3 linked regions of the Homo sapiens genome follow. The protein of the gene in region 1 purifies or fractionates together with the protein of each later gene. This does not show direct contact. Each region holds a gene or a part of one and is shown in the gene's direction. Other genes may lie near its edges.

Evidence for each region. The genes of interacting proteins can lie anywhere in the genome.
Region 2: the proteins of RAD9A (region 1) and CLSPN purify together in Homo sapiens (affinity purification with western blotting; 3 studies listed by BioGRID and IntAct, with this or other methods). This does not show direct contact.
Region 3: the proteins of RAD9A (region 1) and HUS1B purify together in Homo sapiens (co-immunoprecipitation; 4 studies listed by BioGRID and IntAct, with this or other methods). This does not show direct contact.

What each region holds. Positions count from the first base shown.
Region 1 is NC_000011.10:67,394,975-67,398,936, forward strand, and holds the end of RAD9A (cell cycle checkpoint control protein RAD9A), read left to right. Parts: intron 1-741; coding exon 742-851; intron 852-937; coding exon 938-1,047; intron 1,048-1,136; coding exon 1,137-1,201; intron 1,202-1,288; coding exon 1,289-1,426; intron 1,427-2,204; coding exon 2,205-2,412; intron 2,413-2,489; coding exon 2,490-2,585; 3' UTR 2,586-3,436; downstream 3,437-3,962. Other genes in the region: PPP1CA (serine/threonine-protein phosphatase PP1-alpha catalytic subunit), read right to left, coding at 3,561-3,671, 3,748-3,882. UniProt on the Homo sapiens protein: Component of the 9-1-1 cell-cycle checkpoint response complex that plays a major role in DNA repair. The 9-1-1 complex is recruited to DNA lesion upon damage by the RAD17-replication factor C (RFC) clamp loader complex.
Region 2 is NC_000001.11:35,759,952-35,766,988, reverse strand, and holds part of CLSPN (claspin), read left to right. Parts: intron 1-1,662; coding exon 1,663-1,771; intron 1,772-2,274; coding exon 2,275-2,723; intron 2,724-3,667; coding exon 3,668-3,829; intron 3,830-4,507; coding exon 4,508-4,585; intron 4,586-4,918; coding exon 4,919-4,991; intron 4,992-5,784; coding exon 5,785-5,893; intron 5,894-6,072; coding exon 6,073-6,647; intron 6,648-7,037.
Region 3 is NC_000006.12:655,412-660,934, reverse strand, and holds HUS1B (checkpoint protein HUS1B), read left to right. Parts: upstream 1-3,834; 5' UTR 3,835-3,990; coding exon 3,991-4,827; 3' UTR 4,828-4,996; downstream 4,997-5,523.

The sequences.
Region 1 (3,962 bases):
TGTCACCCAGGCTGGAGTGCAGTGGTGCAATCTTGGCTCACTGCAATCTCTGCCTCCCGGGTTCAAGCGATTCTCCTGCCTCAGCCTCCCGAGTAGCTGGGATTACAGGCATGCACCACCACGCCCGGCTAATTTATATATGTTTAGTAGAGACGAGGTTTCACCATGTTGGCCAAGCTGGTCTCGAACTCCTGAACTCAAGTGATCCACTGCTTCGGCCTCCCAAAGTGCTGGGATTACAGGCATGAGCCACTGTTTTTTTTTAAATCCTTGCGCAGGGGCCTTGCTCATCTTTTGCATGCTTCAGTTTTAGTGTATGTGCTGCCGAAGCAAGCACTCTGTCTCATGAATAATTTCAAATATATGTAAAAGCAGACGCAGCTCCCGTCCCCACTTGACTTGAAACAATTTCCAGATGTGATTTCATCTGTATGTCAATGGGTATCCTTAGAGGATAAGGATTTCAGGGCTCTTTCTGAAGGCCGGGTTTGTAGGGTGGCCTGAGTGCCACGTCCTGCCTCTGGGCCCTCTCCCTGGTCTGCATGGTCAGGTGCCGCCTGCCAGGTTTGAGCAACCACTGCAACCAGTCCCCTCCCTGCCACCTTCTCTGGGCCTCATCCACGGTGCGCTAGGCCTGCGCACATCCGTGCGTGTGCATGTGTCACCCCCACCTCAGGTCCTCCGAGAGCAAAGCCCTGGGCAGGGCCAGGCATTTCGGGTAATGCTCCACCCTGTTCACAGGGTTCTGGGGGAGGCTGTTCTGCCCTTCTCTCCTGCACTGGCTGAAGTGACGCTGGGCATTGGCCGTGGCCGCAGGGTCATCCTGCGCAGCTACCACGAGGAGGAGGCAGGTGAGGGGGCTGGACGTGGCCTGGGACAGCAGAGTGGCAGGTGGGAGAGGGGCGGGGCCCAGGTTACTCCTGTTCTTCCCCAACAGACAGCACTGCCAAAGCCATGGTGACTGAGATGTGCCTTGGAGAGGAGGATTTCCAGCAGCTGCAGGCCCAGGAAGGGGTGGCCATCACTTTCTGCCTCAAGGAATTCCGGGTGAGGTTCCTCCCAGGCGCTCGCCGTCCTGTCCTCCCTGCCCAGCTCAGCCCAGCCCGGGGCCTCACCTGCTACCTCTTTCCTCCCAGGGGCTCCTGAGCTTTGCAGAGTCAGCAAACTTGAATCTTAGCATTCATTTTGATGCTCCAGGCAGGTAGTTCCCAGCCTTGGGACAGGGAAGGGCTCTGGGATGGCAGGAGCTGAATGGGATGACCTAGCTTGGGCCCCCTCCCCTGCCCAGGCCCGCCATCTTCACCATCAAGGACTCTTTGCTGGACGGCCACTTTGTCTTGGCCACACTCTCAGACACCGACTCGCACTCCCAGGACCTGGGCTCCCCAGAGCGTCACCAGCCAGTGCCTCAGCTCCAGGCTCACAGGTGAGGGCACCTCCCCCCAACTCCTCCTCTCTCCATGTCTGTGCACTCCAGCCTGAGACTGCAACTCCTAGCTTCTGCACCTCCCCGCAATGTGTTCTCTCCCGCCCCTTCTCTTTCTATCAGGCCCCAGCCCCTAACCCTATAGTGCTCACAGCTGCCAGCCCTGCAGACTCAGCCTTCTCGGTTAGCTGTACTCAGAGACCCCTCCCACCCAGGGAAGCATCCCCAAGGCCCTGCCAGCTTCCTTCTCTGGCTGAGGCCGCCCCTCTGAGCCTCCTCCCAGGCCAAGGAGGGAAAGGGCTGCTGGGAGGCAGGAGCTGCCTGGGCTGGGGGAAGCAGGTGGCTGGAAGGGCAGGTGGGCTGGGGAGGATGGCCCAGTGCACTTTCAGCACAGGAAGTTGGGGCTGGCCCCCAGCCCAGCCTGTCCCTGGGCTCCTGTGCTTTCCAGCTCCTGTCCCCTGGGAAGGTGGGGGCTTGGGCTCCATGTGGCCCAGTTCATAAGACTTGCTGCTCCTCCCTCCTAGCTGAGCTAAGGTAGCCCCCGGGATGCCTCCCTCAGGCCCCTACCTGAATTCTGATCAAAGAGATTCCTGGCCCACCCCCTCCAGGAAGTCACCACTTAACCCCTGCATCCTCTCCTCTCCAGCCAAATCAGGAAGTCATAAAACCAAGAGATCTCCAGTGGTCGGGGGCCCCAGAGCTCCCTTCGAGCCCTCCAAGGTGGGGCCCTGCCTCTGCTCCCCCAGTCCCCTCCCTGATACTCCGATTCTGCCTACAGCACACCCCACCCGGACGACTTTGCCAATGACGACATTGACTCTTACATGATCGCCATGGAAACCACTATAGGCAATGAGGGCTCGCGGGTGCTGCCCTCCATTTCCCTTTCACCTGGCCCCCAGCCCCCCAAGAGCCCCGGTCCCCACTCCGAGGAGGAAGATGAGGCTGAGCCCAGTACAGTGCCTGGGACTCCCCCACCCAAGAAGGTAGGGACTGGAGGTGGAGGCAGGGGTGGGAGGTAGGGAAGGGAGCAGCCTCCAGAACTCACTTGTTCTCTTTCCAGTTCCGCTCACTGTTCTTCGGCTCCATCCTGGCCCCTGTACGCTCCCCCCAGGGCCCCAGCCCTGTGCTGGCGGAAGACAGTGAGGGTGAAGGCTGAACCAAGAACCTGAAGCCTGTACCCAGAGGCCTTGGACTAGACGAAGCCCCAGCCAGTGGCAGAACTGGGTCTCTCAGCCCTGGGGATCAGAAAGGTGGGCTTGCTGGAGCTGAGCTGTTTCACTGCCTCTCGCAGGCCCCAGCTGGCTGTCACTGTAAAGCTGTCCCACAGCGGTCGGGCCTGGGCCGTTATCTCCCCACAACCCCCAGCCAATCAGGACTTTCCAGACTTGGCCCTGAACTACTGACGTTCCTACCTCTTATTTCTCATTGAGCCTCAGGCTATACTCCAGCTGGCCAAGGCTGGAAACCTGTCTCCCTCAGGCTCACCTTCCTAAGGAAAATGTCATAGTAGGTGCTGCTGGCCCCTGGTGATCCAGCTTCTCTGCCAATCATGACCTGTTCCTTCCTGAAGTCCTGGGCATGCATCTGGGACCCCCGTGGAGCTGACAAGTTTTCCTTGCTTTCCTGATACTCTTTGGCGCTGACTTGGAATTCTAAGAGCCTTGGACCCGAGTGTGTGGCTAGGGTTGCCCTGGCTGGGGCCCGGTGCCGAGACTCCCAAGCGGCTCTGTGCAGAAGAGCTGCCAGGCAGTGTCTTAGATGTGAGACGGAGGCCATGGCGAGAATCCAGCTTTGACCTTTATTCAAGAGACCAGATGGGTTGCCCCAGGATCCGGCTGCCAGCCCTGAGGCCAAGCACGGCTGGAGACCCACGACCTGGCCTGCCGTTGCCCTGAGCTGCAGCCTCGGCCCCAGGATCCTGCTCACAGTCACCGCAGGTGCAGGCAGGAAGCAGCCCTGGGGGACTGGACGCTGCTATTGATTCATTAAAAAAAGAAAAGAAAAATACACCAAGGCTCCATGTTCCCCGTGACAGGTGGGCCTGAGGGGTCGGGGTGACCCCCCCCCAGCATGGCAGCATGATTTCTGTACAATCAATCCATCATCTGGGGCACAGGGTGGTGTGCGGGGGCTATTTCTTGGCTTTGGCGGAATTGCGGGGTGGGGTGATGGGTCGGCCTCCAGGGTTCAGGCCACTGAACTGCCCGTACTTCCCCTTGTTCTTGTCGGCGGGCTTGAGGATCTAAAAGAGACAGTGTTGGTCAGGCTCATGGGGCTGAGCCACAGGGCCTAGCGGCTCCTTTCTTCCCCACACTCACCTGGAAAGAGCACATGAGGGTCTCGTCCACACTCATCATGGCGCCAGCATTGTCAAACTCGCCACAGTAGTTGGGAGCTGAGAAAAGTGTCACCAGCTGCCGCTTGGCAAAGAACTCGTAGCCGTCTTCTACCACCTGGGCGAGGATGGGAGCAGTCAGTCCCGAGCGCAGGCACGGCCCTCCCCTTCCCCTGCCGCAGGCCGGAGCCACCAGCC
Region 2 (7,037 bases), on another chromosome or scaffold:
GATCACCTGAGGTCAAAAGTTCGAGACCAGCCTGGCTAACATTGTGAAACCCCGTTTCTACAAAAAATTAGCCGGGCATGGTGGCACGCACCTGTAATCCCAGCTACTCGGGAGGCTGAGGCTGGAGAATCGCTTGAACCCAGGAGGCGGAGGTTGTAGGGAGCCAAGATCGTGCCATTGCACTCCAGCTTGGGCAATAAGAGCGAAACTCCGTCTCAAAAAAAGAAAAAAGGAAATATACATATAGCCGGGCGTGGTGGCTCACGTCTGTAATCCCACCACTTTGGGAGGCTGAGGCGGGCGGATCACCTGAGGTCAGGAGTTGGAGACCAGCCTGACTAACATGGAGAAACCCCATCTCTACTAAAAATACAAAATTAGCCAGACGTGGTGACACATGCCTGTAATCCCAGCTACTCGGGAGGCTGAGGCAGGAGAATCGCTTGAACCTGGGAGGCAGAGGTTGCGGTGAGCCGAGATCGCGCCGTTGCGCTCCATCCTGGGCGACAACGGCAAAACTCCATCTCAAAAAAAAAGAAATATACACATAGCATATAGAAATATACATACATATATAAATATATAGAAATATACATACGTACACACATATATACATTCACTTATGTGTTAACTTTCTTTATAGGTTTCTCTCCCTCTCTTTTTTTTTTCTTTGCAATATATTGTTAAAGAAACCGGCCGGGTGCAGTGGCTCATACCTGTAATCCCAGCATTTTGGGAGGCCGAGGTGGGCGGATCACCTGAGGTCAGGAGTTTGCAACCGGCCTGGCCAGCATGGTGAAACCTTGTCTCTATTAAAATAGAAAAAATTAGCTGGGTGTGTTGATGTGCGCCTGTAATCCCAGCTACTCAGGAGGCTGAGGCAGGAGAATCGCTTGAACCCAGGAGGCAGAGGTTGCAGTGAGCCGAGATTGCACCACTGCACTCCAGCCTGGGTGACAGAGCGAGATTCTATCTCAAAAAAAAAAAAAAAAAAGAGAGAGAGAGAGAAAGAAACCACCCAGTTTGACTTGTAGAATTTCCCACGTCTAGATTGCATATCTGTGGTATTATTCAACATGTTCCCCTATTCCCTCTATTTCCTATAACTTGCTAGTTAGATCTAGAGACTTGATAGGATTCAAATTTGATTGTTCTGTCAGGAATACTTTATGGCTAGTATTGGGTACTTCTATTAGGCAGCACATAATGTCTGGTTGTTTCTCTTTTGGTGATGTTAGCAGCCATTAATGATAATTGCCTAGGTCTGTTATTTAATTGAGGGTTGATAAAATTGTGATAATCTAATTCTATCATTTATTAATTCATTAGGATATTTCTCTAAATAGAAACTTCCCCTCATCAATTGTATGGATATATTGGGGAACAGTTCACACAGAAAAGGCATAATAAATGCTTGATTCTTTTCATTTTTTTTTTTACCGTTACTAAAAGAGTTGGTTCTGTTAGCATCCTTCAAAGGTGAAAAATGAACTTTTGTTTGTTTGTTGTCCAGTAATTCTAAATGTCATCCCTTCAAGGAACCATTGTATTTGGTTCTTTCCTTAGTTCAGGTTGATGATCCCACGATGATTTGTGTGTCATTATGTACTTGGAGCTTTCGGTCACCTGCTGGTTGATATAAAGTATATTGTCATTTTCTAGGTTCACCTAGAAATCAATGACCCAAACGTCATTTCACAAGAGGAAGCAGATAGTCCTTCAGATAGTGGACAGGGCAGCTATGAAACAATTGGACCCTTGAGTGAAGGAGGTTTGTAATAGTACTTTTATTTTTAGGAATAGGTTGCGGGAGCCTCAGTTGTAAGTAGATTGGATTGATTTCATTATTCTCTTGATTTATTACATTATTAATGCCCCATCCTTATTGTTTGTTTTATTATAAAAGCAAAATAACAGTGCTTGTACCTTTTTGAAACTATGTTATATTGTTGAATGTCTAATAGCTACCATATTGCCTGGTTAATTGCATTCATCCTATAATAAAAGGAATTTTAACACCTGCCGGAGGTTAGAACAACTTTACACATTGTAAATATACGTAAAATTACATTTCCCAGTAAGAGACATTTTTCCCAGGGAAAATGTTTTTCAAAATGTATTTTTAGATTTGCTTTGCTACAATCAGTTCTTAACAGTAGTCACGTAATTTCACAATGTTATATATCACTTGTATAAAAATATATTTTTGAGGAGTAGTGGGACTAGGAGGAAGATCAAATGATGGTATAATTAAAAGAAAATTGTTTCCTCCAGATTCAGATGAAGAGATATTTGTAAGTAAGAAGTTGAAAAACAGGAAGGTTCTACAAGACAGTGATTCCGAAACAGAGGACACAAATGCCTCTCCAGAGAAAACTACCTATGACAGTGCCGAGGAGGAAAATAAAGAGAATTTATATGCTGGGAAAAATACAAAAATCAAAAGGATTTACAAAACTGTGGCAGACAGTGATGAAAGTTACATGGAAAAGTCTTTGTATCAGGAAAATCTTGAAGCGCAAGTGAAACCTTGCTTAGAGCTGAGTCTTCAGTCTGGAAACTCTACAGACTTTACCACTGACAGAAAGAGTTCCAAAAAGCACATACATGATAAAGAAGGAACTGCAGGAAAAGCAAAAGTAAAATCAAAAAGAAGACTTGAGAAAGAGGAGAGAAAAATGGAAAAAATTAGACAGCTAAAAAAGAAGGAAACAAAAAACCAGGTACATTTTAAAGAATAATTTGCTATTGCTTGGGTAGGTTAACATTTTAGAAAAGGTTGCTGTTAGTACTTGAGGTTGTTTCTGCTCTCTGACTATTGCTTTGAATTGACTATTTTGTGTTGAGAATTATTCTCAATAGGTATGTGATTTAAAACTAACTGGTCTTGGCCAGGTGCAGTGGTGCATACGTCTAATCCCAGCACTTTGGGAGGCTGAGGCCAGAGGGTCACTTAAGCCCAGGAGTTCGAGAACAGCCTAGGCAACAGAGTGAGATCCCATCTCTACAAAAAATTTAAAAATTAGTTGGGTGTGGTGGCCGTAGTCCCAGCTGTAGTCCCAACTACTTGGGAGGGTGAGGTGGGAGAATCACTTGAGCCCAGGAAGTCGAGGCTGCAATGAAGCTGTAATTGTACCACTGCATTCCAGCCTGGATGACAGAGTGAGACCCTGTCTCAAAAAAAAAAAAAACAAAAACCAAAAAAACAAAACTTATTGGTCTTATTCTATTTTGGGTATGCAGAGGACATTTCCAAATAAATGGGTTTCTGATTTTCTTTATGAGCACATGGAGTAATTCTTTGCTGTCTCTGAGCTGATGAAAATTAACTGAAAGAAGGCTTTTTTATGCATCTATCAGTCAGTAGTCTTGTTTGCTAACTAGAAAAACCATCCTCAAATTTATAAACTAGTTGCTTAACAAGTATTTTACTTCAAAAAAATATTTACTGTTTATTAAGTTAGTTTTAGACAGTTGCATAAAATCACAACTTGGACTTCAAAGGATACATGTGAGTTAGAAACCAGTAAGAATGTTCTAGATTTTATATGCTTGTCTGTTGATGAAACATGGGCTTTTTCTGGCCTGATCCAAATTGCCATATGATGTTGTGAAATACTGGATTTTTAAATGATTGGATTATGCTTTTTGTTTATGTATTACTTAGGAAGATGATGTAGAACAGCCATTTAATGACAGTGGCTGTCTTCTTGTGGATAAAGACCTTTTTGAAACTGGGTTGGAGGATGAAAATAACTCTCCATTGGAAGATGAAGAGTCATTAGAATCAATAAGAGCAGCTGTAAAAAACAAAGTAAAAAAGCACAAGGCAAGTAAAGCATGATTGCAATAAGAGTTAATCAACTGCTTCTGACCTTTGCTATATTTTTAATTTACTGTTGGAACCTTAATTTTTTTTTTAACTGAAGAAAAACTTGTGTCAGTTGACTTAAGTGTTTCAGCTGTTAATTTTGGAGACTTGCAGTACAAGTGATAGACATGCTAACTTCTTTGGAAACTAGTGTTTTGTTATTACCCTTTTAGGAATGCTGAAAAAAAAAACCACTAAGATATTTGATGGTGTAGTAAGATGCAGGTAAATAATAGGGAAGAGATGTAAATTTTGCAATCCTATAGCCTTTGAGAAATGAACCCTATAGGGTTTCAGGAAGGGTATCAAAGAGAGGCATCAGTCAAAACATTGTTGTCCCGAGTGTTTGGAAGCATAATTTTTCTTCCTAAGATTTTTTTTTAGCTTCCTGCGAGTTATTATCCCTCTTTAGGGAAAGATGTAAGCAGAGGTAAAAGAAATAAGGGTCCAGACTCCATCTGAGGTATCTGTTTTCTAAGCATAATAGGATGCTGTGTGTTTAATAATTTCTAGTTGATGATTATTGATTTATTAATGTAGCATGATGTGGTGTTGGACTACAAAAGTAGTCTTCAGCTAAAGCATCCTCTTATTTGAATTTCGTTTTTGTCCTAATCAACCTGCCATTTCTTTTAGAAAAAAGAACCATCTTTGGAGAGTGGGGTCCATTCATTTGAGGAAGGAAGTGAGTTATCAAAAGGAACCACGAGGAAGGTGAGGTAGAGCCCTGTATATTAGTCACACTGATCTCTTTACACAGGAGATTATAGATTTCTTAGGGATAAATATTTTATTTTGTCTATCATATTTTTCTGTTACCCATCATATTGCTTTGTACATAGTAGGAACAAAATATGGATTGGATTGAACAAATTCTCTGAGACTTGGGAATAAATGAATTCCTTGAGTTTATACTGCATTTGGGCTTACTCATGCTTACTATTTCCTTTCCTCTTTTCTTGGAGAGAGCAAACTCTTGAGTGATGAATATCTATCTTTCTGGATATTCATATAATTAATGTAGTCTCACTTCTTGTTTTCTTTAAGGAAAGAAAGGCAGCCAGATTAAGTAAAGAAGCATTAAAACAACTGCATAGTGAGACTCAGCGCCTTATTCGAGGTAATGCAACCCAGTAAACTTTGAGGCAAAATCACAACATTTCTTTGTAAGCTCAACTTGGATGTTGGGGACTTTTATTTTTTTAACACTTCTAATGTGAACTCAGGTTATAATATTAAGTTTAGAATTGATCTTGGTGAAAGGCCATTGTTCTAAAGCCCTTGGAACATTAGTATAAACTGAAGAAATTTTCAGAACTGTAGTGCAGGTAAGGAGGAAATTTTTTAATGGTTGTCTATGGACTGATTGTGTCAGGATTCTTTGGAGAGGTAGTAATCCCTCCCTATTTGCAGTTTTGGTTACCTGTGTCAGCCATGGTCCATGGAACTTAAAAATATCATCCCTTTGTCCAGAGTATCACGCTGTATACATTACCTGCCTGTTAGTCCGTTAGTAGCCCTCTCAGTTATCAGATCAAAAAAACACTGCATGGTTTAGTACCATCTGCAGTTTCAGGCATCCACTGCAGGTCTTGGAATGTGTCTGTCTGGATAAGCGGGGACTACTGTATATAAATGTTTAGGTCCCACAGAGATTCTGATTCAGTAGATTCGAAATGGGATCCAAGAATCTGTATTTCTAAAAAACTTCCTGGATCATTTTGATTTCACATCTAGGTTTAAAAGCCACTGGTCTTCAGGGAGCTTTTTTGTACTTAGCTCCTCTGCCTTTGTTAAAGGGGAGTTTTCTATTTCTAGTGATGGCTTTGGTTATTATGTTTAGTTAACTGAATATGAAGTGACATTTCAGAATATACAGTATATATATTTGCTTGTTTTATTCCATTTTATAGAGTCTGCACTGAACCTTCCATATCATATGCCTGAGAATAAAACCATTCATGATTTCTTCAAACGTAAACCCCGGCCCACTTGCCACGGAAATGCCATGGCACTATTGAAGTAAGAACCCTCTTTCCTTATTATAATTTTCATGAACATTTAGTTTTGTAGCAAACATCTGGCATAAAAAGTTCAGATTTCTCACTCCCTTAAAACTGATTTAACTGATATATACTAAGGGATGAGAATGTTTCACATTTAGGATAATTTTCAACTCCAGCTCAATTTCTCTTCTCTAGGTCATCTAAATATCAGTCAAGCCATCACAAAGAAATCATAGACACTGCAAATACTACTGAAATGAACAGTGATCACCATAGTAAAGGTTCTGAGCAGACAACAGGTGCAGAAAATGAAGTGGAAACTAATGCACTCCCTGTAGTTTCAAAGGAAACCCAGATCATTACTGGATCAGATGAGTCTTGCAGGAAGGATTTGGTAAAAAATGAAGAGCTAGAAATTCAGGAGAAACAGAAGCAGAGTGACATTAGACCTTCACCTGGGGACAGCTCAGTGTTGCAACAGGAATCCAACTTCCTCGGGAACAATCACAGTGAGGAATGTCAGGTTGGAGGGCTTGTAGCATTTGAACCTCATGCCCTGGAGGGTGAAGGCCCCCAAAATCCAGAAGAAACAGATGAGAAAGTGGAAGAGCCTGAGCAGCAAAATAAATCATCAGCAGTTGGGCCACCTGAAAAAGTGAGACGGTTTACTCTGGATAGACTTAAGCAACTGGGAGTAGATGTTTCCATTAAACCACGGCTAGGTGCTGATGAAGATTCCTTTGTGATACTTGAACCTGAAACCAACAGAGGTAATCCTTTACATTGTGGGGAGCCTCCCTGGAGTGATTATCCTGGTAGCTTTTGATTATTGACTACTGTCGAGGACAGAGAACACAGGAGGAACCAATAACCACTTTGATCTTATCCTGCAGTTGTTCCAGATATGGGCAGAGTCTTTTTTAGAGAAATTTGGCAGGGTATCAGAATGATCTAAGCCATGTTTAAAATGGAAGTCTGTTGGCTGGGTGCGGTGGCTTACGCCTGTAATCCCAGCACTTTGGGAGGCCAAGGCGGGCAGATCACGAGGTCAGGAGTTTGAGACTAGCCTGGCCAATACAGTGAAACCCCGTCTGTACTAAAAATACAAAAATTAGCCGGGCATGGTGGCACGCATCTGTAGTCCTAGCTACTCGGGAGGC
Region 3 (5,523 bases), on another chromosome or scaffold:
CTTGAATATTTCTCCCTTTACTTTTTGTATTGTTTATTTGATTTCCTTGCATTGGGCTCCGCCTTTCCCTGATCCCTCCTTGATTAGCTTAATAACTAACCTCCTGAATTTTTTTTTCAGGTAAATCAGGGATTCCTTCATGGTTTAGATCCATAGCTGGTGAACTAGTGTGATTTTTTCGGGGGTGTTGAAGAGCCTTGTTTTGTCATATTACCGGGGTTGGTTTTCTGGTTCCTTCTCATTTGGGTAGCCTTGTCAGAGGGAAGGTCTAGGGCTGAAAGCTGTTGTTCAGATTCTTTTGTCCCACAAAGTGTTCCCTTGATGTAGTGCTCTCCCCATCTTCCTGTGGATGTGGCTTCCTGTGAGCCAGACTGCAAGATTGTTGTCTCTCTTCTGGGTCTAGCACCCAGCGAGTCTACCCAGCTCTGTGCTGGTACTGGGGGTTGCCTGCACAGAGTCCTGTGATGTGAACCATCTATGGTCTCTCAGCCGTGAATGTGAATATCAGCGCCTGTTCCAGTGGAGGTGGCGGAGGGTGCAATGGACTCCCTGAGGGAGGGTCCTTAGCTTTGGTGGTTTAATGCTCTAGTTTGGTGCTAGTTGGCCTTTTGCCAGGAGGTGGTGCTTTCCAGAAAGCATCAGCTGTAGTAGTGTGGAGAGGGACTGGCAGTGGGCGGGGCCCTAGAACTCCCAAGATTATATGTCCTTTGTCTTCCACTACCAGGTTGGGTAGGGAAGGACCATCGGGTTGGGGGGGATGGGTGGGTCTTGGGGGATGGGGGTGGAGTTCTGTACCTAGGGGGATTATGGCTGTCTCTGCTGAGTCATGCAGGTTGTCAGGGAAGTGGGGGAAAGTCTGCAGTCACAGGCCTCACCCAGCTCCCACGCAAAACTGAAGGGCCAGTCTCACAACCACCGTGCCCCCCGTGTCCCCCCCCCAACAGCCCTGAGTGGCAAGACGGCTTGAAAATCTGCCCCAGGCTACCTGCCTCCCAGCTGCGAACTAAAAAGGCTGGGTTCTGTCCCCGCCTGTGGAGTCTGCACACCAGATTTGCGTCCTCTCCCAAGTTCTGGCCAGGAGGCTTCTCAGTCCCTTGAAATTGTTACAAAGTTCAGTTAGAGATTTCCTTCTCCCTGTGGAGTTGTACCCCCTGCTCCTCAGGCCACCTTCCAGATGGATCCCTGTGGTGCCAGGCAGGAATGGCCTGCAAGGGGACACAGTGAGCTCCCAGGGCTTTTCTGCTGCCTCTACCCCTGTGTTTCGCTCACCCCTCCAGATTGACTCAGCTCCAGGTAAAGTCGGAAACTTCTCCCGCAAACAGACCTTCAGCTTCTCCAGTGGGAGTGTGTGTTCGGGAGAGGAAGGGCTCCTTTTCCCACTTCCACAGTTGGGGCACTCACAGTATTTGGAGTGTCTCCCAGGTCCTGCAAGAGCAGTTTACTTCCTTCAGAGGGTCTGAGATTGCTGGTTTGTTCTTGCAGTCTATCTGGGGCTAAAATTCACAATGCGAGCCTTCGCATGCTGCTCTGTCTGGACCTGTGATCTAAAATTCCATGGAGGGCAGTTAGGGAAAACACCTAAAAAGACTCTTGGGGGCGCTAATGACAGTTTGGGAAACACTGCTCTAGAGGATTCGTCATTAGTTACAAATAAGACAAAGATGCTTTCTGGCACCACTGTTATTCAGCAGTGTTTTGAAAATTACAGCAAACGCAATGTCAGTTAAATAAATGACATAAACTTTGAAGAGTAAAAGCCATAATTACAGTACATGAAGATAGTAAGATTTTCTACATTAGAGACATAAAAGGTCAATTGAAAAATGATTTCAGGAGAGCTCAGTGACTTGACTGACTTCAAGATACTGTATATTATGTGAACTCCCTAAGAACAGAACTGAATAATTCATTGACAGTCATAAAAAATGGTTTGAATAAGTGGGAGGATTTAATGTAAATATTTTAAATATCTTGGCTGGGCGCAGTGGCTCACGCCTATAATCCCAGCACTTTGAGAGGCCAAGGTGGGCAGATTACCTGAGATCAGGAGTTCGAGACCAGCCTGGCCAACATGGTGAAACCTCGTCTTTACTAAAAATACAAAAATTAGCTGGGCATGGTGGCAGGCGCCTGTAATCCCAGCTACTCGGGAGGCTGAGGCAAGAGAATCGCTTGAACCTGAGAGGTAGAGGTCGCAGTGAGCCGAGATCACGCCATTGCACTCTAGCCTGGGCGACAAAAGCAAGACTTCGTCTAAAAAAAAAAAAAATATATATATATATATATATAAAATATATATATATATTTTAAATATCCTGAAATTATCTTGAAATTTATACATTTCATACATTCATTTAAAAATTTGTGTTGAACACCAGTTGCATGGCAAATACTGTTCTAAATGCTGGGTGTACAGCAGTGTATGGAACAGATAAGAACTCCTCTAACTTACATCATTGTGGTTAGAGCTAGACGGCAAACAAAGAAGTCTAAGTATGTACTATATCAGGCTGGTGATAATTCCCATCAGAATTCCAGGAAGATTATTTTTAGACTCTGACAAAATATTTTAGAATTCATCTGGAGCAGTATCTGTGAGAGAATGAGAGAAGTTCTGAAAGATTGTCCTATTCGATATTGAAATATAATACAGAAATTAAATCACTGGTACAGGTTCAAGATAGGGCAGTGGGAGAAAATATAGAGAGGGCCAGGAAACATTCAAGCAAAAATGAGAATTTTTGTCTAAAACAAAATTGACATTTCAGGTTAGTGGAGAAGTGGATTGTTTAGTGAATTATGTGTATCAGCTAGGCATTCGGTACTCCAAAAAAGATTTCAACTGAGTCAAACAACTAAGTCATAAAAACAGATAACATTAAAGTACCAGAAACAGGACTTTGAAAGCATGACCCTAGAAGTAGTAGAGAAAAGGTCAATAGGTTTGACATGAAAATACTCAGTATTTCCCAAGGGCAAAGAATACCAAAAACAGTGTGAAAAGTCACATGATAAACTGGGGAAGATATTTACAGTACATGTAATGGACAGAGGGTTAATGTTCTTGCTAGATATCTTAAAATCAAGAAAAATAAACTCAGTAAAAAGATGCAAAGGGCATAAGATGGAATTCACACACAGTGCAAGTTGAATTTTTTTTTTTTTTTTTTGCCTGCCAGAGTGCTACAGGTAAAACAGATTGCTACTACCCAGTGTTGCTGGTGGGCTAGAGTGTTCATGTAGCTTTCTGCAGGCCAGTCTGAGAATATTTATTAGGATTTTAAAAGTGCATTCATTGACCAGCACTTCACTTCTGAATTTAATGCAAGGAAATAGTTGGGTAAATGGGCAAAACTATTTTGTACAAAAATATTCATTGTGTTCATAATAGCAAAAAATTGGAAATCATCCAAATGTCATTTGTGTTATAACTCCATACACTGGAAAAGTGAGCAGCCATGAAGATGGTGTAGATTTGTTTCACCAGCATGGAAAGGTGCCTGTTACATATTTAAGTGTGAAGATGAGGTTGTAAAATGTATGCCTGGTATGCTATGATTTCATAAGACACGTGGAACTATATCTTCTTATATGCCGATTGATGAAGATGGAATCAGTGTATATACCAAAGAGATTAAAAGTGGTTCTTTATCTGAGTGATGATTTTGTCTTCATTGTGTTTAGAATACTAAGAAGTTTCAGCAGTGGAATGCCTACTCTTCTTATAACCGGAGTGGAAACGGAAGCATTTTGTGAGAGGGCTGGAGGGAAGGTGAGAACGGGCGTTGGGAGGCCCTTCCGTGGCTCCAGGCCTAGGGCTGCGGAACCCACAACAGAACCCGCAACCGCAACCGGGAACCCGAGTGCCTGCCTAGCTGGGGGGCCGGAGGGAGGGCGGGGAGGGCAGCGCCACGGACCCCAGCGGACCGGAAGGGCTTGTGGCACGCGGAATCCCCCTCAGAGGCCCCCAGCTGCCTTCCCTGTGGCATCATGAAGTTTCGCGCCAAGATCACCGGCAAAGGCTGTCTAGAGCTGTTCATTCACGTCAGCGGCACCGTCGCGAGGCTAGCGAAGGTCTGCGTGCTCCGCGTGCGCCCTGACAGCCTGTGCTTCGGCCCCGCGGGTTCCGGCGGCCTCCACGAGGCCAGGCTGTGGTGCGAGGTGCGGCAGGGGGCCTTCCAGCAGTTTCGCATGGAAGGTGTCTCGGAAGATCTCGATGAGATCCACCTGGAGCTGACGGCGGAGCACCTGTCCCGGGCGGCGAGAAGCGCAGCGGGCGCGTCCTCCCTGAAGCTGCAGCTGACCCACAAGCGCCGCCCCTCCCTCACGGTGGCGGTGGAGCTGGTCTCGTCCCTGGGCCGCGCTCGCAGCGTGGTGCACGATCTGCCCGTGCGGGTGCTTCCCAGGAGAGTGTGGCGGGACTGCCTGCCGCCCAGCCTGCGCGCCTCCGACGCGAGCATCCGCCTGCCGCGCTGGAGGACGCTGAGGAGCATCGTGGAGAGGATGGCGAACGTGGGCAGTCACGTGCTGGTGGAAGCAAACCTCAGTGGCAGGATGACCCTGAGTATAGAGACGGAGGTGGTGTCCATTCAAAGTTATTTTAAAAATCTTGGAAACCCTCCCCAGTCGGCTGTGGGTGTGCCTGAAAACAGAGACCTGGAGAGCATGGTGCAAGTGCGGGTGGACAATCGGAAGCTTCTGCAGTTTTTGGAGGGACAGCAAATACATCCTACGACGGCCCTGTGCAATATTTGGGACAATACTCTTCTTCAGCTTGTTTTGGTTCAAGAAGATGTCTCTCTTCAGTATTTCATTCCTGCCTTGTAAAAATTCAGCCAGCTTAGATTTTTTTTTTAAGGTTTTGATCTTTTCAAAACTAAAACAGACCCTGAGTTAATTGGGTTGAAAATTTGGACCTTCACTGACTTATGCAGGGCGTATATTTTGTTGAGCCCTTCCTCCTTTGCAAAATTTATATTAAAGCATTGGTAAAACAGTTGGGTAGTTCATGTTTTGTTTATTGGGTTTGTCAGGTTTTTTTCCTGCTTAAGATTCTATCAAAGTTATTCTTCAACTCTTTTTTTCGGGGGGGAAAAACAGGGTTGTAATGAAATAAGTATTTTTGAATCCTGAAACAATTGCATCAGTATTTTATTATAAAATGCTGCTGTGTAAAGCGGGAAAGTTCTCCTTTTAAAATATGTATGAATGTTTTCCGAGGGCATTTCTTATGTAGAGAGCTAAATATATCTGCAAGATAAAAGGTATTTAGCATGTGTGTGCATTACATATTCTTTGTTAAGCCGTGTTCTGTATAGGATATGTCAAAGAATATATCAGTGTACATGGTTTTTAGATTTATTATCTACATAGTTTGAATTGCTTATTAGGTTCATTTTTCACATGTATCATATTCACATTAGAAATCAAGGAAATATAGGCATGTCTCAGAGATACTCCAAGTTTGGTTCCAGACCACTGCAAAAAGCAAATATTGCAATAAAGACAGATGAGTTTTTTGGA